Linked DNA regions of Homo sapiens: all the other regions are reported to be linked to region 2. The links are microRNA targets in miRTarBase. Many come from high-throughput screens and were not tested one by one. Region 2 holds a microRNA gene; each other region holds the end of a gene's coding sequence.
What was found. Region 2 holds the annotated microRNA hsa-miR-26a-5p (UUCAAGUAAUCCAGGAUAGGCU, at 2,909-2,930, opposite strand). A microRNA usually pairs through its seed, bases 2 to 8, with sites in the 3' UTR of a target mRNA and lowers its output. Matches are read on the target gene's strand: a 7mer-m8 pairs with bases 2 to 8, a 7mer-A1 pairs with bases 2 to 7 and ends in A, and an 8mer does both.

Region 1: miRTarBase lists MTRF1L as a target of hsa-miR-26a-5p. Seed matches in the 3' UTR shown: 7mer-A1 at 4,863-4,869.
Region 3: the mRNA of ZKSCAN1 is a reported target of hsa-miR-26a-5p. Seed matches in the 3' UTR shown: 7mer-A1 at 2,943-2,949 and 7mer-A1 at 666-672.
Region 4: miRTarBase lists LRRTM4 as a target of hsa-miR-26a-5p. The part of its 3' UTR that is shown has no 7-base or 8-base seed match.

Annotation. Positions count from the first base shown.
Region 1 is chr6:152,984,378-152,992,405 of GRCh38, forward strand. It overlaps MTRF1L (mitochondrial translation release factor 1 like), which reads right to left. Exons shown (of 7, transcript NM_019041.7): 6 at 6,808-6,944; 7 at 2,985-5,718. The coding sequence ends at 5,518. Among named protein-coding and RNA genes, the nearest start is that of FBXO5, 5.4 kb to the left of the region's middle. RefSeq lists an enhancer at 158-257.
Region 2 is chr12:57,821,750-57,829,777 of GRCh38, forward strand. It overlaps MIR26A2 (microRNA 26a-2), which reads right to left and starts at 2,943; the gene lies at 2,860-2,943. It overlaps CTDSP2 (CTD small phosphatase 2), which reads right to left. Exons shown (of 8, transcript NM_005730.4): 2 at 7,699-7,847; 3 at 5,803-5,841; 4 at 5,247-5,348; 5 at 4,597-4,653; 6 at 2,478-2,570; 7 at 2,155-2,340; 8 at 1-1,978. The coding sequence ends at 1,853.
Region 3 is chr7:100,031,554-100,039,581 of GRCh38, reverse strand. ZKSCAN1 (zinc finger with KRAB and SCAN domains 1) reads right to left here. Exons shown (of 6, transcript NM_003439.4): 6 at 1-6,277. The coding sequence ends at 5,385. Among named protein-coding and RNA genes, the nearest start is that of ZSCAN21, 14 kb to the left of the region's middle. RefSeq lists enhancers at 1,251-1,750, 1,751-2,252.
Region 4 is chr2:76,745,159-76,749,158 of GRCh38, reverse strand. LRRTM4 (leucine rich repeat transmembrane neuronal 4) reads left to right here. Exons shown (of 4, transcript NM_001134745.3): 4 at 243-1,474. The coding sequence ends at 464. Among named protein-coding and RNA genes, the nearest start is that of LRRTM4-AS1, 240 kb to the left of the region's middle.

The DNA.
Region 1 (8,028 bases), not on the chromosome of region 2:
TTGTGGGGCGCGGCCAGGATTAGGATGAATCATACAAGTGCTGGGTGGATCCTGTCTTTACCTAAAATTTTGATAATTAGTTCATCATGGGTTTTTTGCCTTTTTCATTTTTAAAAATGTTAAAATAGTGTCACTCTTGATGACTTAAATTTTTTTCATCCCCGTAAACGCACCTGAGGCCTGTGCTTCCTTGCCTCACCCTAACCTGGCCCTGGGGCTAGATCCTGGAGATTCAGGGTTGAAAAGACAAAGTCCTGTCCTTTAGGGAGTTTACAGAGACCAATGGGAAAGAAGTTGACAGTGAACAATTTCAGAACACGAAAGAGGATATGAAAGAATGTAATCGGGGGTAGAGAATGCAGATTAGTATAGGTTAAGGATTTTGGATGGTCAGGACGCTTTCTGAGGCTTTGAACCCAGATGCGTTGAACTGGCAATGCAGGGCTGCATAATAAGCAGAGGGAATAATAAGCAGAGGGAATGCCTGACTACGACTTAGTGAACAAGAGAGAGAGGAGATGAGGTTAGAGAGGTAGGCAGAAGCCAGATCCTGTGGGACCTTGTAGTTTTTCCATGCAGAGTTTAGACTTTCTTCTGATTGCAGTGGTTAGCTGTTGGAAGGATTTTGGCAAGGTAGTTATTTGTTGATAGAATATTGAAATTATAATAGCTTTTTTATGTAAAAAAAAGAATGTAAATGTTAGCCTTTCATTCTCACAATAGGTTAGCATTATTTTCAGTGTACAATGGTCGTGCTTCTCAGTGTGAGTTAATTCTCACTGTGGCTACCAAAACCACACAGCTAGTAAGCGGAGATTCGAGTGCCCGTCTGCAGGATTCAAAAAGTCCATGTCCTTTCCTCTTATGCTATGCTAGCCTATAACACTATCTGCTGGAGTCCTGGTTGGTTTTAGTACATTTCACATTACTTCACAGTTTGACCTTAGAGATAATTGTATTCACCTCTTCTATTTTCAGATGCTGGCATAAATACAAAATTCGAAGCAGGCAAGGTTTCTCATTACATTAGTTTTTATTTGTATTTTTTTGAGACTGAGTCTCGCTCTGTAGCCCAGGCTGGAGTGCAGTGGCGCGATCTTGGCCCGCTGCAGTCCCTGCCTCCTGGTTCAAGCGGTTCTCCTGCCTCAGCCTCCCAAGTAGCTGGGATTATAGGCATGCGCCACCACGCCTGGCTAATTTTTATATTTTTAGTAGAGACGGGGTTTCACCTTTTTGTCCAGGCTGGTCTTGAACTCCTGATCTCAACTGATCCATCCACCTCGGCCTCCCAAAGTGCTGGGTGGCATGAGCCACCGAGCCTGGCTCATTAAATTAGCTGAGCATCTGGAATATAACCTTTGGATCTTATCCTCAGCTTAGATTTGTTCTTCAGCAGTTTTTTTATTCTCTAGAAAAAGGCTGATATATTATTGGAGAAATCAAAATTTCTGTCATAATGTAATATAAAGAACCAAGCATGTTTTGTTGCATGCTAGAATAATTTGTTAGGTTTTTTTTTTCAGCTTATTGGGTTACTGCATCATTGACATTAAATAATGTTTGAGCTTTAATTATTATATTATTCATAACTGTCGATAGGTTCAGTTCACTGGCACCTGTTAAAATTCTCATCTAAGTGAGAAAGTTAGGGCCACTCTGGCGGGGTGTGGTGGCTCATGCCTGTAACCCCAGCACTTTGGGAGTCAGAGGCAGGAGGATTGCTTGAGCCCAGGAGTCAACATGGTGAAACCCCATCTCTACCAAAAACAAAAAAAGCAAAAATTAGCCAGGCATGGTGGTGCATACCTGTAGTCCCAGCTACTTGGGAGGCCGAGGTGGGAGGATGGCTTGAGCCCAGAGGCAGAGGTTGCAGTGAGCTGAGATCGCATCACTGCACTCCAGCCTGGCGACCAAAAAATAAAGGGCAAGGGGACATTCTGAATTTTACTAGAAGCCAATAGATGTATACACCTCATTTTTCAAATCAGCATCAATCAGTTGTTGGGTGTTTAGGTGGAACATGAAGTGCAGAGAGAACTGCCCTCATTCTTTCGTAAAATTCTTATCGCAGACCTATCACATGCAAAACAATGGGATATATGGAAATAAATGGGACATGACACCTGCCCTTGTGCTTATTATCTGTGGGCTTGCCACATAATAGCCATAATAGGTGTTCAGTAAATAATTTCTGAATACCAATCAGGCATATCTGTGGGGGTAAGGTGTATAAAATAAAGCTATGTGGAACACTGGATGAGTCAAATACATTTAAATTTGTGGAAATTTTGGCCGGGACTGGTGGCTCACACCTGTAATCCCAGCACTTGGAAGGCCTAGGTGGGCAGATCACCTGAGGTCAGAAGTTCAAGACCAGCCTGGCCAACATTGTGAAACCCCATCTCTACTAAAAATACAAAAAATTGGCCAGGCATGGGGGCGGGTGCCTGTAATCCCAGCTACTTGGGAGGCTGAGGCAGGAGAATCATTTGAACCTAGGAGGCGGAGGTTGCAGTGAGCCGAGATCACGCCATTGCACTCCAGCCTGGCCAGCAAGAGTGAAACTCCATGTCAAAAAGAAAAAAAAAAATTGTGGAAATTTTCATAGAAAAAAAGGAGTTACTTCTATGTACCAGGATAAGGGAATAATCTGTAGGACAGGGTTTCTTAACCTCAGCACATTTTTGGCCAGATAATTGTTGTAGGATGTTTAGCAGCATCTCTTTTATTCCATCTTCCAGTTGTGGTAACTGTCTCTAAACGTTGTCAGATGTCTCCTGCGGGGGCAAAAGACCCTCTGGATGAGAACCATGGCTGTAGGGGATGTCTTCTGAAGAAATGGGCACAAAGGAGGCCTACAACATAAAGAACAAAATAAGGGAAAGGGTAAATGCAGTTGCATTTATCAGGATAATTTAATTTGATGTGGCATGGGGGGTGGTGTATAAAGTGAGCTAATACAAAATGATGCTGGATACAGATCATGGATGTATTGTATACACAGTGGAAAGCTGGTTTTATTTGGGAGACAATGGGAGCTTTTACATTGTTGAGCAAAGGAGTGACGAGATCAGTCTTGCTTTTTAGAAAGATTAGTTTGGCAGTTACTTATTTGTAACCAGAATTAGACAGCAAATCGGATGCAGGGGAGAAGTCAGGTGACTATTAGTCTGCGAAGTAATTCTGGACAAGAGCAGTGGTAATGGAATTGAAAAGGATTAAAAGTGTTTACCAGGTTTTAGCAATAAATCCAATGCGAGGAAGAGGAACGTAAGATGACATTTTAAATTTGAGAGTGGTAGTACCATTAAAAACTAATGAATTTTGATTAACTAGTGCTTTAGGCCCTTTGAAATTATTTTGAATTTTGGTTCTTTCTGAACAATGCACCAGATTTCTAGACAAATACTTAAGGTGTTTTTAGACATCTATTTAGTGCCTATTATAGCATGGTGTTAGCTTCCGAAGAGACAAGAATGATGAAAATACAATCTTATCCATTAGTGGCATTGTGAGAGGTCTAGCAGTAACTTGTTCATCCTATGCCCTGATCCACCCTTTCTCATTTCCTTATTAAGCACACAATACTGAGACCAGAATAAAGCAGTGCATTTACTACCTTGTGAAGAATGTTCAGGTGTTCAGGTATGGTATCTTCATTTTGTGCTGCTATAACAGAATACAGGAGACTGGGTAATTTGTAAGGAACAGAAATGTATTTCTCACAGTTCTGGAGGATGGGAAGTCTAAGATCAAGGAGCTGGCACTTGTTGACTAGGGCTTTCTTGCTGTGTTCTCACATACAGAAGGCAAGCTAGCAGGATGCTCCCCGAAACCTCTTTTATTATGGGCCTTCATCCCAGTCCTAAGAGAATCCCTCATGGCCTAGTGATCTCTTAAAGACCCCACCTCTTGATGCTGTCACATTGGCAACACTTGAATTTGAGGGGACACATACAAGCCATAGCAAACTGAACATTTCTCCCATGCCAGATAGCACCATGTTCTTTGTCAGTAGGTGGTGGTAGAGGGGCACTGCAGGATAAAGGGGCTTCTTTCACTTCTAAGATGATACTGTGACAGTTAATTTTATGTGTCAACTTGGCGGGGCCACAGGTGCCTAGCTACTGGGTCATACTTTTTTTTTTTTTTTTTTTGAGATTTAACTTTTGCTCTGATTTTCCAATTATAAGGTCAAACATTATTCTAGGTGTTTCTGTGAGGGTGTTTTATATGAGATTGACATTTAAATCAATCAGTGAACTCTGAGTAATGCAGACTGTCCTCCTCGATGTTAGTGGGCTTGATCCAGTCAGGTGAAGGTCTGAAGAGAAAAAAAGACCGTCCTCTTCCCAGAACAAGAGAATCCTCCAACAGATACCTTTGGACTGGACCTTGCACCATCAGCTTTCCTGGGTTTCCAGCCTCCTGCCTCACACTCCAGCTTTTGGACTTGTTAGACTTAATAATAACAACACAAGCCAATCCTTTTAAGGAAGTTTGTCTGGAGAATCTTGACAAACACAAACATCTACTGAGAGTTCCTGTCCAAGTTTTGCTCACACCCTAGCAAGAGGCTTCTGGCTTACCAGTTGGGAGTGTGAGGTTCTTTGCTTGTAAGACCTGATCCACCAGCGGTACACCAGCTCTGGCCCAGGGCAAGACAGGGAATTTCCCAATCACTGAGTAGGCTGTAGCCACTCTCTCCATTAGGCCTGACTTCACCATGGGGAAGGGGAGACCCTTTCAAGGGTATTCTTTCCTGGGGTACTCTCAGTCCTAGGACATCATAGCTCTCTTTCATCCCTCTTAAAAGTTAATACCATTATCAGTTAACAGTTTTTATATTAAAATTATCCCTGTTCAAGTTAATGGTATGGTTTCTGTATCCTGACTGGATATTAGGATACAGTATTTACTGTCTTATTTCTACTACTTTATGTTTAAAGTTTTTCATAATATTTAAACTGAAGTTTTGATCATTCATTAAATATTTACACAGAACAGGACAAAGGATGATTTTCCTTTGTCTAGTTATTGTAAGGTAGCGTCCAAGATTTACCACCACATCATGATTACAGATGGTCACCAACTTATGTTTTAGGATTTTTTGACTTTATGATGGGTTTATAGGGATGCAGCCCCATTTCAAGCTGAGGAGCTCCTTAGGGCTTAGGAATCATACCTCTTTCACACCATGGTAAAGTTGGAAAATTGTTAAGTCAAGCTGTCATTAATTAGGAGACTGCTGTGTTGCTAACGTTATATGCATTTTTAACTTATGATGGGTTTATTGGGAATTAACCACAATGTAAATCGAGGACCATCTGTATATTGTATGATTTTTGCTAATGCATTGAGAGAGATCTGTGTAAATTATCTATGACTTCAGAATATGCATATTACCTCCAACTGTGTTAACTCAACGTTTTTCAAGAGAGTAAGGGTACTTTCACCCTATGTGGATGTACTGTAGAATTTTTCTAAGCTACGAAAGTCTATAAATAACAAATCAACTTAAACTTTTTGGGAAATAATTTCTACTAAAGATTCATAATCGGCGTATTCCTTCAATGACTGTACAAGTTCATCCAGTAGATAATCTCCTTGCATAAAAGTTTCAAGATCATGCAGCGTCTTGTTTATTCTGTGATCTGTGACCCGGTTCTGTGGAAAATTATATGTTCTTATTTTCTCTGATCTTCCTTTACTTCCAATCTGTATATAGAGAAAAAGATGAGATGCAGCTAGATTCAGGGCAATTTAAACCTACAAATTTAACTTATTTGGAGACTTAAGTTCTTGATTTATAACATGAATCAAATGCGAGAACCAGGTTTTAAACACTTAGAATCTCAAATGACATGGGAACATGATATAGAAAAAAGAACACGTGCTCTAAAATCAGATTAATATCTGAATCCTGCCTCAGCCACTTCAATGTTCTATGACCTCGGGCAACTTAGTTTCCCGATCTGCAAAATACAGTGTCTACTACACAGTGATGATGACAATAGAGCCTGGCACATAGATGCTATTCCTATAGTCGCTGAATACATATAATCTCTGTGAATTAATGCAGTCATCTTCCGTGGTAACAAGGTGGTGAGTTTCCCATATTGAGGAATTCTTAAAAGGCTCTGTAGTTATAAAATTAAATACCGGCCAGGCGCGGTGGCTCACACCTGTAATCCCAGCACTTTGGGAGGCTGAGGTGGGTGGAGCACCTGAGGTCAGGAGTTCGAGACCAGCCTGCCCAACATGGCAAAACCCCGTCTCTACTAAAAATACAAAAAATTAGCCGGGTGTGGTGGCAGGCGCCTATAATCCCAGCTACTCAGGAGGCTGCAGCAGGAGAATTGCTTGAACCCAGGGGGTGGAAGTCGCAGTGAGCTGAGATCGCACCACTGCACTCCAGCCTGGGTGACAAGAGCGGAACTCCATGTCAATAACAAACAACAACAACAAAAATTAAATACAGGAAGAAAAAAACAGGAAGAAAGCCAAGTTGAGTTTGCTTTCCAACTTTCTTGCGTAATTAAAATTTCAAAGGATTAAAAATGAATGAGGACTCAGTATATATCTTTATTTTTAGTAACGGATTAAAAGTCTGAGAAAAATACCTTTGAATATAGAAAACAGGGCAGAGATGTAAGATTACTATCAAAGAAGGATAGCCCTTAGACTACTTGAATTGTTTTCAACACAGGTTAAAACAAATATATAAAAACCAAGTTATTTAAAAAAAGCTGAGTTATATAAAAATATTTCTATCCTTTAAAAGCATTTTTAAAATTCTTTTTTTACCTGAATTTTTCTAGCATTCTGTCTTTTATTTATTTCTTCTTCTAGATGCATGCTGTACAGTTTTGCACGTAACTTTGTCATAGCCAGCTCTTTATTTTTCAGCTGAGATCTCTCTTGTTGACATTCAGAAACAACACCTGAATAGTGTTACGAGAATTAAAAAGTTTTAATAAAAAAATCTTCTTTACTTATTATCAAGGAATACTTTTCCTCCTCATCCTTTTTCTTCTTCCTTTATGAGGGGAAAAAACAGAGGACTCTAATAAAAAAGGGAGAGACTATAAGCTTAACTTTTGCAGAGTTTATCAGAAAACTGAAAATTTAAGTTTTGAGCAATAGCACAAATAGCACAAAGTCTTTCTTTCTTTCTTTTTTTGTCTGAGATGGAGTCTCGCTCTGTCGCCCAGGCTGGAGTGCAGTGGCGCGATCTCGGCTCACTGCAAGCTCCGCCTCCCGGGTTCACGCCATTCTCCTGCCTCAGCCTCCCGAGTAGCTGGGATTACAGGTGCCCGCCATCACGCCCGGCTAATTTTTTTTTGTATTTTTAGTAGAGACGGGGTTTCACCTTGTTAGCCAGGATGGTCTCGATCTCCTGACCTCGTGATCCGCCTGCCTTGGCCTCCCAAAGTGCTGGGATTACAGGCGTGAGCCACCGCGCCCGGCCTAGCACAAAGTATTTCTATACTGAAGGCATACATACTAAACAATAAGCATAAATCATTTAATACAGATTGTTTCCCCTCAGCTAGCCACCATGTTTTAAAAGTAACAACTACTTATAGAAACTACGATACATGAAAAATCCTATTACCAGAGAAAATCACTTAACTTTTTTAGGCTATCCATTTTTTCCCCCAATTTTTGTTTCATATTCTGTATTACCTAAGACATCATCCAGTTTAACATAAGGATATTCTCATAATTTAAAAGAACAAAATCGTTAACAATCCAGTACTGGCCTCAACCACTATTAGTTAATAGGGACTATGCCCATTTGAGATCAGTCACAGTAAGAGATTCTTGTTTCCTTTCTAGATAACTGAGATTTGCTATCCCTATGCTCTTTATCACATGTGAATCACTGTGGTGATACCTGTGAAAGACGTTTAGTTCGAGCTACAGTATACTGGAGATTTCGATATAGTCCCTTTGCCTAACTATCTAGAATCAGATCCCCTCGAAGTATGTGAATGAACTTAATGGAAAGAAGCCCCTGCAATT
Region 2 (8,028 bases):
GGGAGTGATGCTGGCGGAAATGGCCACATGAGTTCTGGGGACTCTGTTCCACTTTATGATTCCAAAGAGAAAGACAAGGCCTTATAACCTTGGGACAAGAAGGGAAGGTGGCACCACAACGCTAGAGAAAAATGCCAGCCAGCCACCGCTGAGAGCACGAAGCTGCTGCTCTACTACCTGCTTTTCTCAAAACTTGTTAGTTCCTGAGGCTGGATCTAGGGTGTGGCAATGGAAGGGATGATGGGGAAGAGTCCTGAGTGGGTGGTGTCCCTGCACCTAAAGCAATTCACAAATGCTTTGTGATACCTGCCTCCAGGGAACACAGAGATGGGAACAGGAGCGCCCTCCCACCCCAGGAGGAGGGAGGGAGGGAGGAGAGAACCCCACCCACCCCAGGGAGGCCACGATTAAGGCAGTGATGCTGAGGTGGGGCTCCTTTTTGGGAGGCCCCTTGTGCTCCCAATTACAGCAGCACTTCCTCTTATTTTCCACCCTGGGAAAACTTCCATTTCGTGATGACTTTAATTTTAAAGCATTCACTATTAAGAACCTTTGAAAGCAGGAGACACCCAGAGTGCAGGTCTGAGGGGCTCACTCACTCCTGTTACCAGAGGCAGAAAGCATGCGCATTAGGCTGGCAAATGGCAAGAACACTCATTCCCCCTCAGCCCAGGAAGAGCAAGAGTTCTGAGGCCCTTAAGAGGAAAAGCAACAGCCAGGAAGGATGAAGGCTGGAACAGACAGAGCTCGGTACAGGACAGGCCCTGGGGGAAGACACAACAGGAAAAGAGCCCTGCCCAAGAAATGGGAGGGGCTGGGACAGCTTAGTTTTTCCCAGCCTTTGGAACAGAAGTCCTTGCACCAGCACCAGCAGAGAATCCCTGAAAAGCAGACTTATGGAAATGATCCCGAGCTTAGCTGATCCACAAGCCATGGGGACACACGTCCACGCTTTGAGGATTTGTCTTTTCCCTGCAACCCCAGCGCCGCCGACATTCATTACAGGCCCAGGACTGTAACTTTGTCAGAAACAAACCAGGCCCAACACTCTGTGTTTAGAAAGAGAATTTTAAAACACAGTCAAAAGAACGGAAATCAGTTATCTGTCCTCTTCCCGGGCAGGGAGAAAACCTCCTTCCCCACAGGTTTGAGACTATGGCTAGGTGGTGAGGAAGGCAGGCTCAGCACCCCAGCCTTGGGGAGACATAGAAAAGGCCTATCCCAGGCACTCAGCCGGAGGCAAGCATAGCCTTTGGGCCACAAGACCTGATGGCCACTGGATGCTGGTCTGGAAACAAGTTCTCATCTTCCCAGAAATGTGATCTTTTGTCTGCAGCAGCTGGCTGGAGAAGGATTTCAGAAAGGTGTGTGCCTGGAGTACCCAAAGGCATACCCTTCCTTTATCCTTGGCATAGGCCTTACAACACTGAGGAAAGGCCATGGTTTGGCAATGGAGTCTTCAATAGTCTTCATCCCTACACAACTCAGTGGCTCTTAGGGTGACAGGAGAGGAGACAAGCTAACTTGGGAAGAGTCTTGGTCTTTCAGCTTCTCCCCCACTGAAACACTATACACTGGGGCCACAGTTCATGGCAAAACACACACACAAACACACACTCTCTCACAGTCAAACACACATCTCAACAAGTTGGCGGCAGGTAGCTCTGGGTATCATTGGTCTGGCATTCGCCCACTCGGCATCTAAGCTGTCCTAAAGCTCTTTCCAGTTACTTCCCGCTGTTTCCGGGCCGTGTGGTGAGGCACTCCAGCTTCTACTCTGTCACGCTGATCGTAAAGGCACAGTGTGGGAAAGTCCCCTACTGGGATGGCCGTCGCTTGGAAGCAGGGCAGGCTAAGGGGCCCGCAGCTGCCCAAGGCTGGTGTAGACGTCCTCTGCTCCGCTCAGCTCCTCAAAGATTGGGATCAGGTTCAGCAACTCAGTGTCTGCCATGTCATCAAACCAGGACTGCACAGGCACCTGGTGGGGGGAAGATGTGGTGTCAATCTCCCGACTGCTGCTTCCCCCTCCCTCGCCCCAGAGCCCTAGAGGGTGGCTGGGTCTTCCTGGAGGGGTGTACTTCTCTGGTGGAGCCCACAGTTCCAGTCTGCTTCCTCTCCCAATCCCTACCGTGGAGACGCATCAGGAGCACTCACTGCATTCTCGGGGTGGAATATGTAAGAAGCAGGCGAGTTGTCCAGGATGAGGGTCTTTCTCAGGTCCCTCCCCAGGCGGCTGAGGTCCTTGACGTAGCAGCCCTGGTGGAACACGCAAGACTCACGGAATAGGCGGGCCCGGAACACCCCACACCGGTCCAGCAGGTCTGTCACAGGGTCGGCATACTAGGAGGAGAGAAGATGCCTTAGTTTGGATACACTCCTGGTCCTCCTGTATAACCCTAGGGACCAAAAGGGAGCTGCTGGACCACCCCCGTGGCCACCACACCCACTCCTGGTTCTTCCCTCTCACCCCTAGGTACCTTGGCCAGGCTGGCAGTGAAGAGAACACATTCAAAGAGTTCCCCCATGCGTCTCAGGAACTCATCCACATAAGGCCTCTTGAGCACATACACCTGAGGAAGAGCAGAGCAGCCTGTTGGAGGCATCCCTGTGATGAAGGTTTGCAGTACTGGGTACCTTCACCAGTTACACAGCAGCAAGGAGCTCTCAACCCCTGCAGCCCAGCCTCCTGGGCTACCTGGCTGGAAGCCTGCGGCCCCCTGAGACCCCACAGACCCGGAGAACTGGCTGTACCCCTCACCAGGCTTCCAATGGATCAGTGGTCCCAACCTCAACCTGGCTCAGGAAGAAGCGCACACACCATGTCCCAGGAGCCATCTCTGTTTCCGGCGGCGGACCATCAGCTGCCTCCAGAAACAAGTAATCAAGAATAGGCCTCACAGATGGAAACAGCCTATCCTGGATTACTTGAATCCAGCCACAGCCTCTATGGGAGCTTTCTGTCCTTGGCTCCGACAGGACAGTCTGTCCAGGTCATGATTAGGTAATGAATTGCACCAGGGAGAAGTGACTTTTTCCCCTCAATGACCATAGACTAGACAGACACCCTGCCGAGTCTTGCTCTGCACCCGATCTTGTGCTTGCTTCTGCCAGCCACCACTAACACCTTTGTCCACCCTTACGATCTTGCACATTTTGGGAAGTCCTTTGGCCACCTGACCCCCCATCGGTCTGCATTCTATTGCTTCCATGACTCTAGCCTACACAGCTGCTACTAGAACCATTTCCAAAAAGGTCCTTTTTCTTTTCTTTATTTACTTATTTTTTTTAGAGATGGGGTCTTGCTATGTGAGGCCAGGCTGGTTGTGAACTTGTGGGCTCAGGCATTCCTCCTGCCTTGGCCTCCCAGAGTGTTGGGATGACAGGTGTAAGCCACGGCACCTGACTCCCAAAGCTCCTTTACCTGCATTACTCCCGAGCTCAAAGAGAGTCGGCCTGCTGTGACTCTCCCTCCTAGAGTAGGCCTGAACTGGCCACCAACTCACCAGACCACTCAGAGCTCTGCAGGAACCCTCTGTTCTAGGCAGCCACAACTTAACTTCTGTTAGCCTGCCATTCCTTCGACCTCCAACAAGCCCCTTCCTCATCCCAGCTTTCATCAAGTCTGGCATCCTTTCACCCACCTTGGGCAGGTAGTGCTCCCTCATTTTAATCTCATCCTTTTAAAAATTATTCATACCCTTCCTTGTTAGCCAGGAGTTCACAGTGTATATCTGTTTGAAAATATGCCTTCATCTTTTCTACAAGGGTTTAGCACATCCCTATACCCTCAGCTAGACTGTCAAAGGGCTGCTGGACCAAGCCTAGTCCTGACCGGGGCCTGGCGCTGGGCATGGCAGGCCTTCTGGGCAAGCAAGCTGAGTAAATGGTCTTTCACTAGCAGTGTCACATGATCCTTAACCTGGGACTGCCTGGGCTGCAGGCTGGAGCCTGGTCTGTTTAGATTTGAGTGCTCTTTACATTGACAGACACACACTGAGCACTTCCTCAGGCAGAATCCAATGGAGGGCCCCAGGGAAGGCAGTCAGAGAAGGCTTCACAGAGGAGGAGATGTCTGGGCTGGGGAGGAAGAAAGTCACTAGCTATTCACAGTGGGGGTGGCAGGGGGAGCATGGGCAAGAGGGCATTCCGGGCAGAGAAAATGGTTACTACTGATTTCCCTGCCTGTTACAGGCAAAGAGATACCTGGTTAAGGTATCTTAACAGGTATAGATACCTTTCTTAAGGAACAGAGAAATGTAATAAATCATTTAACAGTGCTGGCCACGTGAGGGGATGGTGGTTAACAAACGATAGCTATTATTATTATTAAATAAAATGTAAACTATTCTTTTAAACAGCTTGGTTGCAAAGAGAAAACAAGGGAGACAGCTGGGTGGGATATGGGGCTGAAACTCTTTTTTTAAGGTGAGAAAGCCTTGAGTGAAAGATACCAATAAAAAGGGGAGGCTGGAGTTATAGAAAAGGGATCAACTGACAGAACCCAAGCCCTGAGATGGGTGGAGGACCCCAGTACAGGTGAGGCAGAAGGCAGACCCCCCACCCTCTGGGCTGGGTGTGGTCTGGCTGGCAGCTCACCTGGTGAGTGGTCCCCTCAATCTCTATAGGCACTATGAAGTCAGCATTGTTGATTGGCTGGAAGGCAGAAAAGTTAATGCTGTCAGCATGGTGGCAAAGAAACATGAGGCCCCCACCATACCCCTAGGTGGGTGGGGAGAAACAGGTCTTAAAGACTCCTGGAAGTGCCTCTGGCCACCTCATTAAGGGGTTCTCACCCTAGTTCAAGATGTGATACCCCATTCTGGTTTTCCCTACTCCTTAGCACCTCCACTCTGACAAATTCTACCTGGGCTGAGAGTTTTGGGGCCTGAGTTTCCTGAGGAGACAAGCAGGGGCAAGGGCCAAAGGTGATCCAACCACTCTTTTAGGCCTGCCCTGTACAGAGCCCTCGTGGCTGGCTTTCTGTGCTATGTGGCTCGGGGGCAGATGCAGCCTGTTGGGAGTGACTGGAGATAGCAGCCCTGGTGGAACACACAGGGTTCCTACTCAACATTCTTCAGTGGGGCCTCTAGATACCTGTGACACAGGGTGGCCAAAATGCCAGAGGCCTGGCCTTTTCCCTTCTAATCACTCTTCTTTCCTCACCTTTAGGCTGCCTTACACATCTGTTGCCAGATTCACAAGAAGGCCCAAGATAAAGGTAGGAAGGGTTCCAGACATTGAGTTACCTTAAAGGAGCTATGCACAAGGGTTTCATCGAGGTCAATGACCACACAGATCCTTCCTTGATCTTCCTCTGTCACCTCTGGGAGCAGGCAGGTCCCTGGGATCTAAAACCAAGCCAGGTTGCTGAGATCTGCCTACCAAGAAAGCCCAATTGTACCCCTTGGCATAATTATGGGAAGAGCTGGGTTGTTTGTGGAGACACAATCACCAACCCAGGATAGGCACCACTTAAAGGCCAGGAAGAAAGGAGGTGGAGTTGTTTCCTTGGTTTCAGCCTCCCAGTGGGACTATTAAGTGATCTGGACATTGGAGGTGGTGGCCAGGGCAGGTGTGGGATGGACAGCAGCTGTGGGAAGAGGGCATGGAGCACCAGCTGTCCCCTAAAATCTAATGCCTTGCACATAGCAGGCCCTCAACAAGTATGGGGAACAAATGGCTTCCCAGGTCAGGGAGGTGGCTGGCTAGGCACCAAGGACTATGCACATCACCCTGCCCGTGGAGCTGGCAGGGATCACAGGATCCTGGCTTCTGAGTACTTACCAGGCCAGAGTCACGTACCTGGTAGAACTGGTACTGGAGACACTGGAGCAGATCCGACTGAGGAAGAGAAGGAGGTGGTCAGTGCCATCTCACTGCCTTTCCCACCCCATCCAAACCCACTGCTTCTGTCTTAAGCCTGGAGGGCAACTTTCTCCCCCAGACCCAGCCACCTGGAAGCTCCTACCATGTCAAAAGTGACTTTTCCTAGGAGTGGGGCAGGAAAAGGGAAAGGCTAGAGCTTCCTTTCCACATTAGGCCTGATGAAGGATGGAGAAGACAAGTGTCCCTGTTCTCGGCTGCCACTGCCTCTCAACTGGACAAAGTGAGGAACAGGGAACTCAAGTAACTGATTCAGGGACACAGAGTCAGAGGCAGAACCAAAGTCTGAATTCCTCACAGTGGCAAACTCTCGCTAAGTCCTTAAACTCAGGCTTCTCCTTGAGAACATGTTGTTTTCCATGCCCTCCTTAGGGGTTATGTGGGGGAACAAGCCCTATAAAACATCAAGTAAGCCACATTGTAGGTACCCAAAATGTGAGGGGAGGGAGTGCAGAGAGATCAGCAAGCCCCCCACCCCAATTTTTGCTAATACAAATGTTATGACCGCCGGGCGCAGTGGCTCATGCCTGTAATCCCAGCACTTTGGGAGGCCGAGGCGCGCGGATCACCTGAGGTCAGGAGTTCGAGACCAGCCTGATCAACATGGAGAAACTCCGTCTCTACTAAAAATACAAAATTAGCCGGTCGTGGTGGCACATGCCTGTAATCCCAGCTACTCGGGAGACTGAGGCAGGAGAATCGCTTGAACCCGGGAGGCGGAGGTTGCGGTGAGCCAAGATCGCACGCCATTGCACTCCAGCCTGAGCAACAAGAGCGAAACTCCATCTCAAAAAAAAAAAAAAAAAAGTTATGGTTTTAAGTGTTCTTAATGAAAACTTTGAAGAAAAATTAAAATCCTAGCACTTAGATAAACAATGTGGCATTCAGTGTACTGCCTTCAAATCTGTGTCCGCAGACTTTTTCCAGAATGCTATACAATTACACACTCTGCCTTTTTACTTAATGTTGCAACTCAATACTTCTCCATGTTATTGAGAACTCTGTAAAAGCTAATCACTCAGTAATACTGTCATGTTGTATTTTATTTAACCATTTCCCCTACTGCAAAATGCAGTGATTTTTCACTGATGTATGTCTTCAGCCTGGTCTTGAGAAAAAGGAAGGACAACCAGACCTCAGTGTTTCAGAGAAGTACCACTGGCTTTTGGGGCAGAATAATTTTTGTTGGTCGGGGCTGGCCCCACCTGTGAAATACTAGACATATAAAAAATACCCACAAAATCCCAAATGCCTTGCATGAGTATGGGAGAGAACTGCTGACAGGAGTTATTAACAGCATGGTAGAGTTTCAATTCCTTGGTTCCCTGTAACTCAGGTAACTTGGAAGTTAGCTTTGCATAATTGAGAACAACAACACAGGCTTTAGAGCCAGAGAAATCTAAGTTCAAATCCTGACACTACTATTTATTAACCATGAACTCTTCAGGTGCTACATAAACCCTCTACATAAATCCATATCTGCAAAGTGTGAATCCTGTGATCTCCTTACAGGGCTGCTGGCTGGATCACATGAGACAATATATGCAAAGCACCTTGCCTAGTTCCTGGAACCTGGAAGGATCAGGATCACAGGGGCCCTCAGAAACCACAGTGACATGTGAATGGCCCACACCGCAAAAGGGAAGGAACAGAAAGGAAATACACTACTTATGGAAGGATGGAGGAAGGGCCCCCTCTCAGCCAGAAATCTTTGCAACTTCAGGCAAAGCTTCCTTGTCCGGTTGCCATCGTCTGCAGGGATCTCCCATTAACAGTCCCTTCATTGCTGGCATCTTACCACCCCAACCCACCTACCTTAGCAATGGTGTTTGCTTCCTCCTTATACGCAGCGAGCTCAGTGGAGGAACTTGACTGGCCAACATGCTGGGCGCGAAAACAGCAGAAAAGGGCCTTGAAGATGTTACGTCCACGAGGCTTCTTAGGAGAGGACTTGGAGACCAGGCCTAGGGTGGAGAGAATGACAGAGGCTTTAGCTCTAGGGACATCAGTTTCTGTCCACAGATACTACCATGCCCATAGCTCTTCTAGTTTGTAAACTCTACTAGGGCACACAGTATACGGCTGGTGAACAACCACATACAGTTAACAGTCAAACATACATGTTTATTCCAGCCTTTTCTCTTT
Region 3 (8,028 bases), not on the chromosome of region 2:
CTAGGATAAAAATTAAAAAAAGATTCTTTCACAGCAACGAGTCTTTGCAAAACCTCTCTCCTAATAATCACAAACCAGGGGAAGAAAAGTGGGAGCAGGGAACACAGGAACACAGCCAAAGGGAATATTGCAAAATGCTTCCCGAGCTTCATCAGACAGACTTCTTGCAATGCCACGACTGGATGCATCTGCACACAATTCCGGGAAATGCCCACCTTGCTGTTCTCCTATCCCCAATTTTCTTTCTTTCTTTCTTTTTTTTTTTTCTTTTTTTGAGACAGAGTCTCTGTTACCCAGGCTGGAGTGCAGTGGTGCAATCTCGGCTCACTGCAACCTCTGCCTCCCAGATTTAGGTGATTCTCCTGCCTCAGCCTCCTGAGTAGCTGGGACTACAGGCGCCCACCACCACGCCCGGCTAATTTTTGTATTTTTAGTAGAGACAGGCTTTCACCACGTTGGCCAGGCTGGTCTCAAACTCCTGACCTCAAGTGATCCGCCCACCTCTGCCTCCCAAAGTGCTGAGATTACAGGAGTGAGCCACCGTGCCTGGCCAGTCCTATCCTCCCCCCAACCTTTTTTTTTTTTTTGACATGGAGTCTCACGCCATCACCCAGGCTGGAGTGCAGTGGCGCCATCTTGGCTCACTGCAACCTCCGCCTCCCATGTTCAAGTGATCCTCCTGCCTCAGCCTCCTGAGTAGCTGGGACTACAGGCGCCCGCCACCACGCCCAGCTATTTTTTTGTATTTTTAGTAGAGACGGGGTTTCGCCATGTTAGCCAGGATGGTCTCGATCTCCTGACCTTGTGATCCACCCGCCTTGGTCTCCCAAAGTGCTGGGATTACAGGCCTGAGCCACTGTGCCCAGCCTTATCCTCAATTTTCTAAGCATAAGGATTTAAGAGTTAGTGGGAAAGCATGACTACGGTTTAAAAGAACCTGGTCAGCTGAAGCAGTCCCACTTGGCCATTCCAGTACACTTCCTACTCTCGCTTCATGGAGAAGACCGTCTACTGACAAGAGAATCCATCCCCTTTGCACACAGTGGTCACCTGACAGCTCAGAGGTCAACTTCTTGGTTTTGAGGAAAAATTCAAAAGGCTGCACGTTTAAAGGAGTTGTTCCATTTCAGTGCCCCATTAGCCTGTCTTTCCTCAGAAATTTACCAATCTCTTGATGTGATAAGCACCAAACTATGAAGCTTTTCCCTTCCTCTCCCCGCTGCTCCGTTCTGTGAACCGACTTTTTGTCTACAATCACACTGATTTCTTCACTGTTTGCTCTGAAACTTCACTTTTTCTGAGTGATGTGTTCTGTCAAATAGGCTAAAATAAAATACAGTATCTGCTTACAGGTAATATACGGAACAATAACAAGGGACTGAAGGTACAAAACACACACGGACATTATGGTCATATAAAATATATAGAAGTACCTAACGTTAACAATTTTTGTAAGAAGTTGCACATTTTGCTATTTTTTTAAAGCATTTCCCCACATTTTTTTTCATCTGTAGATCCTCTGCAGTTAAGATTGAGCACCCCCCCGCAACTTTTTTTTTTGATACAGAGCCTCGCTCTGTCACTCAAGGCTGGAGTGCCAGTGGCATGATCTTAGCTCACTGCAACCTCCGCCTCGCAGGTTCAAGCCATTCTCCTGCCTCAGCCTCCCGAGTAGCTGGGACTACAGGCGTGCGCCACTGTGCCCAGCTAATTTTTTTTTGTATTTTTAGTAGAGACAAGGTTTCACCATGTTGGCCAGGCTGGTCTCGAACTACTGACCTCGTGATCCGCCTGCCTCGGCCTCCCAAAGTGCTGCGATTACAGGCGTGAGCCACGGCGCCCGGCCAAGATTGAGCTCCCTCTTGCAATGTTTCTCAAATTCATCACGATTGGAACATACCGACGGAATTCATTTTCTGTCTGAAGCAATGAGTGCTATACATGAAAGTTTTCCTCACATATAATATTCATCAAGTTTATTTACAGTATAAGCTTTCCGATGCTAAGGGCTGAGATGTGATTAAAGGCTTTGCCGTATTCATCACATTCAGGAGGCTCCTTTCTGGAATAAATTCTCTGATGTCTATGTGAACTGTCCCACGTATCACACGTCAACCTCTCTATACATATTTAGCAGTTTCACTTTTATGCCTTTAATATTAAGTGCTTTACATATCAAGATGTCTCATAGATCGATAATCTCAGGTTTTAGCCTTGCCTGCCAGGCTGGAGTAGAAACAAATACCCCACAACCTGAGGATTTTACTTCTCTTCCTGGCAAGGGTAGGGTATATATTGAAAAACTCTTCAAAAATTTCCATTAGGACAACTAGCATGCTAATGGTTAACTGTAGAATGTTTCAACTGTTAACAGACTTCAGCGGGCCAAGAACTTTTGAATGACTATCTTGAACGCCAATTAGATGTTGCAAGCGTTTTTGACCATGACCCAATTACACTTTGCACTGAGCATCTGATAAACGAATGCACTGCAAGTGGTTTTAATAAACAGTTGTAGCCTGTTTTCCTCAGAAAACACATCTTCAAATAGCTGCTTCAAGGACAGCATGTGGCTGAAGATCGAAGCAACCCTAGTGGCAGCTATCCAACAAAGTCAGGAAGATGTCTCCATGAAACGGAATTAAATGTGAGGGCACAGGTCACATTTAACCTTCATTTAAAAACAAAACTCAAAAGTGATGGCTGAGTTATATCAGCATATAGTTGTGGCTGAAAGAAAAAAAAAAACCAAAGGCCAATGTAAACATGACCAAAGTCCTTTCCCTCTTAAAAAATAAGTGCTTGGGTCGTTGCCTGGAGTTCCACACCTCACTTTTCAGTTTCTTTCTTTCTTTTTTTTTTTTTTGAGATGGAGTTTTGCTAGTCACCCAGGCTGGAGTGCAGTGTGCAATCTTGGCTCACTGCAACCTCTGCCTCCTGGGTTCAAGTGATTCTCCTGCCTCAGCCTCCCAAGTAGCTGGGATTACAGGTGCCCACCATCATGCCCGGCTAATTTTTATAATTTTAGTAGAGACGGGATTTTACCATGTTGGCCAGGCTGGTCTCAAAACTCCTGACCTCAGGTGATCCGCTCACCTCGGCCTCCCAAAGTGCTGGGATTACAGGCGTGAGCCACCGCACCTGGCCTCAGTTGCTTTCTAGAGGGCAAAAGTCCTTGCTCAAAAGCACAGGAGTTTTCTACAAAACCATTGCTGTGGCTTATTCTTTGAAGAAAATCCTTAAAACATTTTCTGCCTCCATTTTAGTTACTTAGATATACTCTTCTGGAGTAATGGGTTTTTCTTCCGTTGCATGGGTAGAAATATCCTAGTGACTGGTTGACTTGCAACACGTTTTCCCAAGTAATGCTGATGAAACTGCTTAGAAGCTATAGGGAAGTTGTAGTTGGTTTAAGTCATAAAGCCAAGGAGAGGCCAAAGAATGACCACTGTGCAGTTTTAGCTCCCACTTCGTTGGTTCCATATAAAACCATTTGGTCTCATGGACTTTAGCTGCTGATCAGTGAATGACTGATGAGTAATAGTTTTAGTATAAGTTTCTCAAGGGAAAGTCTCAAACTATATATGGGGTTCTCTTGTTATGGGGAGGTCACACTGATAGTCTTGAGGTTTGTTCTCAGTCTATGTTTCTGTTTCCGCAGGGCGGTCCTAGCCTTGGGTAGGACCCTTGTCCTACTTGAGTGGCGATGACTACTTACACAGCTCACAATCTCCTGTGTGTGAAACAGTCTCCTGCCATCAGCTTCTAGGTAGCCAGTTGCACCCTGCGCACAACGATGGGACCAATGAAAGTTTCATAACCTCACCTCAGTCTTTAGTGATAAGAAACAGAAAAGTCACTGTGCACTATGACGATGGCACAGCCAGCCACATCTCAGTACACTGCTGAGTTTCTCAGAGCAACAAAATACATTTAGTAATTGCCAGTGAACAATTAATGCTTTTGCAAAGTTACTGGAAAAGCGTGGGAAAAAACACTCCCTACCACGTTCCTTTTTCTGAAAAGCAACAAAAATCACATCTTCTGAACTCCAGTATCTAAGTACAAATGATTCAGAAAATCCCCAAATCATCATACTGTTCAGCAGCTAACTGCAAAGAATTCTAAGAGCTTTGCCACAGAAAGATGTCAAAAAAAAAAAATGACCTTCATCAGTGTTCATATTTTTCTTCAAGATGACGATGATAAAGTCATTTCTGACATTCCATGGTATTTACTCACTGTTTAGAAAGTCTATGCAGGCGGCTGACTAGTGCCTTTCGTTTATATTTGGAACAAAAACAGCATCAGACCCTAGAGGTTTAGCATGCCTTGTGGCTACGAAGGTCCTCTTTAGAAGCTGGGCCAGGCTACCATATTTCAGGGACTCACGATTCACAGGCTTTTATCACACACGTAGAAGTCCTGTAGAAGTCAGTCTGAATGAGTGCCTCTTAGGTGTTCAGTACTCACTATGTCCAGCACTGTGCTGGCAGGGATAGAAATATATCCCTTGACAACCGAATCTTTTTTGGGGGTTAGGGGGTGATTAAAAACTTCATACATGAAACAATGAAGGATTAAAAGACAGTATACAATCAAGTGCTAACTTGTGGAGAAATGCATTTAGGAGTGCGATAGTGCTTTAGGGATTTCAAGAAGGGAGAGATGTATTTGGAGTTGTTGTTGCCATTTCAGTAGAACTGATCTCAGGGATGAGGACAGAACCATCTACATTTGTTGCAGTCCTTTGGAACTGTAGACTGGTGCACATACCCTCTCTTTCGGGAAGAGATAGAAATCTTTGGTTTGATACTGATTAGCACAGTCCTAGATTTCTACAGCTTTGGTAGGCTACCAGTGATCATATATACAACTTATCGTATATATAACTACCTTGAGCAGCATGTCCCAATGTCGTTTTTGTTTTCACTGTCCCTCTTTTTTGAGAAATAAGCAGGATGTTGGCCAAAGTAGGGCTTGTTTGCAGCAAGTAGCATCCTAACCTCCGTATCACTTTCGTGGAGCCAATCTTGATCTTTCAACTATTATGTTGTGGTTGCCGAGAGTCCAAGAGTGCCTTAAAGGTATCCTCATTACTGAAAAGACTGACATTTCACTATGCGTGTGCTTTTCTCTTGTGTGGAAATCTCACGTGGATTATCCGTAAGATTAGCCTTTCCCTGCAGGGGCTGTGTGGAAGGATTATATGCCCAACTACTACATAAAGGCAGAACACTGCTGATGTGACTAGAAGGATCCTTAAGTGTGACTTTTGTTTTTTAATCTGTTGAGGCTGTATTTCTTTTTCCCTCCAGGAGCACACATCTCTGAAATAATTTTAGAAACAAAAGGGGGAAATGGCTTGATGGCAAATTCTTCCTTTACACACAACTTTTCAGGAACGCGCCAAATGCATCAAGGGAGGCTGGGCTGTACTCAGAGGCTCTCTCTCTGGCATGGATTCTGTGATGCAGAGTGAGGGTGGAGCTGCGGGTGAAGGCCTTGCCACACTTAGTGCACTTGTAGGGCTTTTCTCGAGTGTGAATTCTCCGATGCAAAATCAGGTATGAGTTTCGGTTGAAAGCTTTTCCACATTCACTACATTCATAGGGTTTCTCCCCCGTGTGAATTCTCTGATGCTTGGTGAGGTCCGAGCTCTGGCTGAAGGCCTTCCCGCACTCATTACATTCATAAGGTTTCTCTCCAGAGTGGATGCGCTGATGGAGGATGAGATTGGAACTGTGGCTGAAGGCCTTGCCACACTCGTTACATTCATGAGGTTTCTCTCCTGTGTGGATCCTCTGATGCAGGACAAGGTTGGAGTTAAGACTGAAGGCTTTCCCACACTCACTACATTCATAGGGCTTTTCTCCAGTGTGGATTATTTTATGGCGGATAAGGCTTGAACTTCTCGTGAAGCATTTACCACATTCATCACATCTGTGAGACTTTGTTCCCGTGGGAACTTCTTCAGGGGTGGTGAAGTTGGAGCTCAGACTGAAGCTTCTTCCCAATCCTTTCCCCTTCTCCCTTGGACCTCTCTCTCCTGTGATGGTTTTTTTGTCCTTTCCTATAGCTGGCCCTGAATCTCTTTTCTCTTTCCTGGTTTTCTCCTCAGGGTTTTTCTGCTGTCTTTCTCCTGTTTTGCCCTCCTGGTCACGTTTCTCTCCAAACTCTTTCTGGGATCTTCCTGTTGTCTCCCCGCGTGATGCTGAATCTTCCGAGGTTTCAGCCTTTGAGGTTGACTCCTCGTTCTCATTCCTGTTTTCACCACCTGACATAATAAATAGAAAATTCAAATCGCACCTTTTTCTTTTGAATATACAGGTGGGTCAAGCGACAGTTTCCCGAGAAGCTTCTACACGGCTGCAAAATGACTTTGCAATATTTTTATTTTTATTTCCTTTGAGACAGAGTCTCGCTCTGTCGCCCAGGCTGGAGTGCAGTGACGTGATCTCAGTTCACTGCAACCTCCGCCTCCCAGGTTCAAGTGATTCTCCTGCCTCAGCCTCCCAAGTAGCTGGGACTATAGGTGCATGCTACCACGCCCGGGTAACTTTTTTTTTTTTTTGAGATGGAGTCTTGCTCTGTTACCCAGGCTGGAGTGCAATGGCGTGATCTCGGCTCACTGCAAGCTCCGCCTCCCAGGTTGACGCCATTCTCCTGCCTCAGCCTCCTGAGTAGCTGGGACTACAGGCGCCCGCCACCACGCCCGGCTAATTTTTTGTATTTTTAGTGTAGACGGGGTTTCACCATGTTAGCCAGGATAGTCTCGATCTCCTGACCTCGTGATCCACCCGCCTCGGCCTCCCAAAGTGCTGGGATTACAGGCGTGAGCCACCACGCCTGGCCTACGCCCGGGTAACTTTTGTATTTTTTTAGTAGACACGGGGTTTCACCATGTTGGCCAGACTGCTCTCAAACTCCTGACCTCAGGTGATCCACCTGCCCTGGCCTCCCAAAGTGATGGGATTACAGGCATGAGCCACTGCACCCGGCCTGACTTCACAATATTAATTGGACATAAAATAGGAGAAAAACAAGGGGAAAAACTGGGACAACAGGAAGATCTGTTGTCCTAGTTTTGGAACAACAAAAATTTGGAAAATGAGAGCGCAGGCAAAGAGTGGAGAGTAAGGGGAAATGACAACAGAGGGAGCATGGGGAGAGGATGGAAGAAACAGACACAAGGGGAATGAGCAGAGGGAAGACAACAAATCACAGCAGAAGGGAAGGGATGAGAAGCAGGAGCCTTCAGAGGTCACAGGTCTACTACTGGATCACCTGATAATTAATTGGAAGGTTTATGTATACATTTAAAACATCATGTTCCATTTCTAACATTATTCATAAGTTCAAAAAAAGAACAGGTCTTTCATAGAAAATGATTAGTGGTATTAGCAGAAAGAAAGGAATAGTAAATATTTCTCCAATTCTGTGAGTTTTCTATCAACAAGCTGATGATTAACAAACAAGAAACTTTGTTTTGTTTTTGTTTTTGAGACAGGGTCTTGTTCTGTCAGCCAGGCTGGAGTACAGTGGCATGAGCACAGCTCACTGCAGCCTCGATCTCCTGGGCTCAAGTGATCCTCCTGCCTCAGCCTCCCAAGTAGCTGGGACTATAGGCCTGCACCACCCCGCCTGGCTAATTTTTAAATTTTTTTGTAGAGACAGTGGTCTTGCTATATTGCCCATGCTGGTCCTGAACTCCTGGCTTCAAGCGATCCTCTTGCCACAGCCTCCTCGAGTGTTGGGATTACAGGTGTGAGCCATTGTGCCTGGTCAAGGAACTTGTTTTGAACCTGGCAGGCTACAGGAATCTTCAGACACAGGAAATAGTTTCTATCCAACAAGGAGAGGAACACAGAGCTGACAGTGCTCAAGTAACAGAGGAGTAGGTGGAAAAAAGTGGTTACGACATTAGTAAAAATAATTAAACCCTTCACTGACTGACACAGAATAACTCAGAACAAAAAAGAAACAGAAAACAATGCTGGAGACCAGGTGCAGTGGCTCACTCCTGTT
Region 4 (4,000 bases), not on the chromosome of region 2:
GCTAGAGCAATGAAAAGTTGAAAGATACTGTTTTATGTACAAAGTCTATACACATAATATGCTGACAAAACAATATTGAGTTAAATAGTAATCATCATTTTGTTAATGTTTATTTGTAGTTGAATTTGTAGCTGATGACTTGAAACAGCATGAAAGAGAACAAAAATACAACCTGATGAGTGCTGTCCTATCTTTCCAAAGCAATTTTATAATCCACCCATCTTTCTATTTCTCATATCCAGATGCCACACCACATGAAGCCCTTGCCATATTACAGCTATGACCAGCCTGTGATCGGGTACTGCCAGGCCCACCAGCCACTCCATGTCACCAAGGGCTATGAGACAGTGTCTCCAGAGCAGGACGAAAGCCCCGGCCTGGAGCTGGGCCGAGACCACAGCTTCATCGCCACCATCGCCAGGTCGGCAGCACCGGCCATCTACCTAGAGAGAATTGCAAACTAACGCTGAAGCCAACTCCTCACTGGGGAGCTCCATGGGGGGGAGGGAGGGCCTTCATCTTAAAGGAGAATGGGTGTCCACAATCGCGCAATCGAGCAAGCTCATCGTTCCTGTTAAAACATTTATGGCATAGAGAAAAGAAAAAGAGAAAAAAAAACTGCTTGAAGAGGGCAGCGAATGCACCTGCAGCATTACCGGGAGGACTGCAGAACTTTCTTTGCTTTAAAACATAAAACAAACAAAAATGCTCCCGGATGTAAATAGTAAGAGTGTCAAGTTCTTATAAAAATAGATTTCACCCTAGCTACATATAGGTTTGTTTGTATATTTGATTTTTCTACACTGCATGGTTCCTGGGCTGGAGAACCACAGGGGAGCAAATAAACAGGGGTGGGTGGGAAGCTAGGGAAACAACCGTTTTCCTCTTTAGGTGTGTGTAATTCTCACAGATTTTATTTAAATTGCTTTCATTTATTTTTTCTTTAAAAATGCTGTTTGTTCTTGTTTTGTTTGTTTTAATTTTTTTCTTTCCTGGTCAAGTTTCTAATACAAAACATGAGCATTAAAGCTTATGTTGTACCAAAAGAAAATGTGCTTTACCACGGACCACGGAGAAAGTTGACCACAAAGTTTGACAAAACTACTGGAAAACCCAATAAGTCTGGGTGAATGACCCTTCATGACAAATGCCATATATGGTACATGATAGAAGGAATTTTGTTTTGTCCCATTGGCAGCCCTCACTGTGTAGGATGCCTGAGAGAGCCATGAAGATCTCCGAATGAGAAGACCAGCAGAATCATTCTCATGTGGACTAAGGCTATAAGAGAGATATGACCATGGGCTCAATGAATGAAACTGCCAAGCTGACAAATTTCTAAACACAAGATAATGTGTAACATTGCTTTTTAAATTAATTATCAATTAGCTTTTGTGTAGTTTTTATCAATAAAAGAAAAAATATTGAAAAATAAATATATTATTTTGTGGTTGGTATACCACAGCCCACCTAATGCTGAGTGCTTTATCTGTATATTGTGGAATGCTTCTAGTCTATATCAGGGTACTTCAATAAGAATCAGTTGGTATCTATCAAGTGTTTTCTGTGTGTTCCATGGTCAGATAGGAAGGCCCTGTGAAGTGCAGAAAAGGAATATGAGACGTGGTTTATGCCTGGTATGGTTTGTCTGTGTCCTTACCCAAATCTCATCTTTAATTGTAGTTCCCATAATCCCCACATGTTGTGGGAGGGACCCAGTGGGAGGTAACTGAATCATGGGGGTGGTTACCCCTGTGCTGTTCTGGTGACAGTGAGTAAGTTCTCACAAGGTCTGATGGTTTTATAAGGGGCTTCCCCCTTAGCTCAGTTCTCATACTTCTCCTTGCTCCAGCCATGTGAAGAAGGACGTGTTTGCTTCCCTTTCTGCCATGATTGTAAGTTTCCTGAGGCCTCCCCCGCCATGCTGAACTGTGAGTCAATTAAAATTCTTTTCTTTATAAATTACACAGTCTTGGGTATGCCTTTATTAGCAGCATGAGAATGGACTAATACATGCCCCAATACACTTCACAATTATTTTCAGAGCTATGTGACCTTACTCTAAATAAAATTATATAATAATATGAGAAAAAGTAAGTATCCATGGAAGGGTTAGAGGTTGTCAGACCTTATAGAAGTGAAAGAACTGTGTGGAAATTGGTTACTAACTAGGAAGATGGATAGCATCACCCATTTTTTTTAACAAAGGAGATCACTCCGTGCACATCAGTTGTGACATTTTCTCTCAACTTCTTTCATGTTGTAATGCTACATCTTAGCAATTCTCTAATTGTGGACATTCTCCTGATGTGTCCACTGGTGTAATTTGCCTAGTTTTATTTTTAAAACTAAATTATACTACAAAATTTATGTCACCCTTTATTTGGACAAGTTTCATGTTTTAAGGCATGCTTACTTACAGTGGCCCTGCTGAGTGTTCCAGAACCAAGTTAATAGCTGCCATCCATTTAATTCCAAATTCTGCTGAATTAATAAAAGAGCCTTGTAAATACCATCACATCACAGCAAACTAACTGAACATGTTTTGTTTTCTCTCCCTCAAAGAAGGTCTGTTTTACTACCACTTTAAACAAAGCTTGAAGTTAAATTCTATCCCAAAGGATACAAATAGTATGTCACATTAAAGCAAAATTCAATTGAGGGAAGTTTTTTTCATGTTGGAACACAGGGCTATTGCTGTTGAATTCTGTTATCTTTCCTCTTAATATTATATTCTGGGTTACATGTGTTTTCTTTTTTTTTTTTTTTTTTTTTTGAGACGGAGTCTCGCTCTGTCGCCCAGGCTGGAGTGCAGTGGCACGATCTCGGCTCATTGCAAGCTCCGCCTCCCAGGTTCACGCCATTCTCCTGCCTCAGCCTCCCGAGTAGCTGGGACTACAGGCGCCCGCCACCAGGCCCGGCTAATTTTTTGTATTTTTAGTAGAGACGGGGTTTCACCCTGTTAGCCAGGATGGTCTCGATCTCCTGACCTTGTGATCCGCCCGCCTCGGCCTCCCAAAGTGCTGGGATTACAGGCTTGAGCCACCGCGCCCGGCTACATGGGTTTTCTTAATCATTCAAGTAGAATCAATTTACTAGAAGTTCAAAAATTAAAGATAATTCTTTGGCATTGTGATTTTGTTTTCAGAAACTATTCAATACATTTGGAATATGTCTTCCCAAATTACAAGGATTTTTTGGTGGGGGTCTTTCTGAACTACAAGGATTCTCTTAATCCTTCTTATCTTCTCTATCTATCCAATGTCCCCCATATACCTTATCCACCACACCACCCCTTCCAGAATTGATTTATGAGAGGTCACACGTGAAAAATCTCGATCAAATTTGGCTGATGTCAGCTCTAATTTTAATTCTGTTTCTTATAATCAAAAAGTCATAAATACATAAGACTCTTCATGTTATTTAAAACTGCCATATTTGGCCAACAGTTGCCTCAAGGTTAATATGAAATAAGTGAACTACTAGCTAAACAGATAGTATTATAAAAAAGTTGTGTCCTATTTATATGAAAACTTTCAAAGAACTTATTTAAAATGTAATTTACATATGCCAGAACAGTTTACACTGAGCTCCAGAAATCTATGATTAAAACAAACAAACAAACAAAAACTCAAACCAAATTTACTTTAGCAGGCTTGGAAAAGTCCTCAGTTGAAAAATTCAGGCTTTATACTGTATGAAGGGTCAAGCAAGTTTTCAGATAAAACAGTGTGTGTGTATATATATGCTATTTATATACACATACACAAATAAATAGTATATATATTTATTATATATACAAATATATGTATATAGTGGTATTTCAACAAAGGGGTTAGGAAGAAAATAGGATTATTCATCACTTAAGCCCAAAAGTCAATTATTTTTATGCTGCAACCCTGGTGTAACCAAGGAGGATGAAAGGCTTCTATTAGTCAACACTCAGGATAAATTATCTTCTGGGCCTAAAAATGATAGGGAACAAACTTGTCTATGGAGG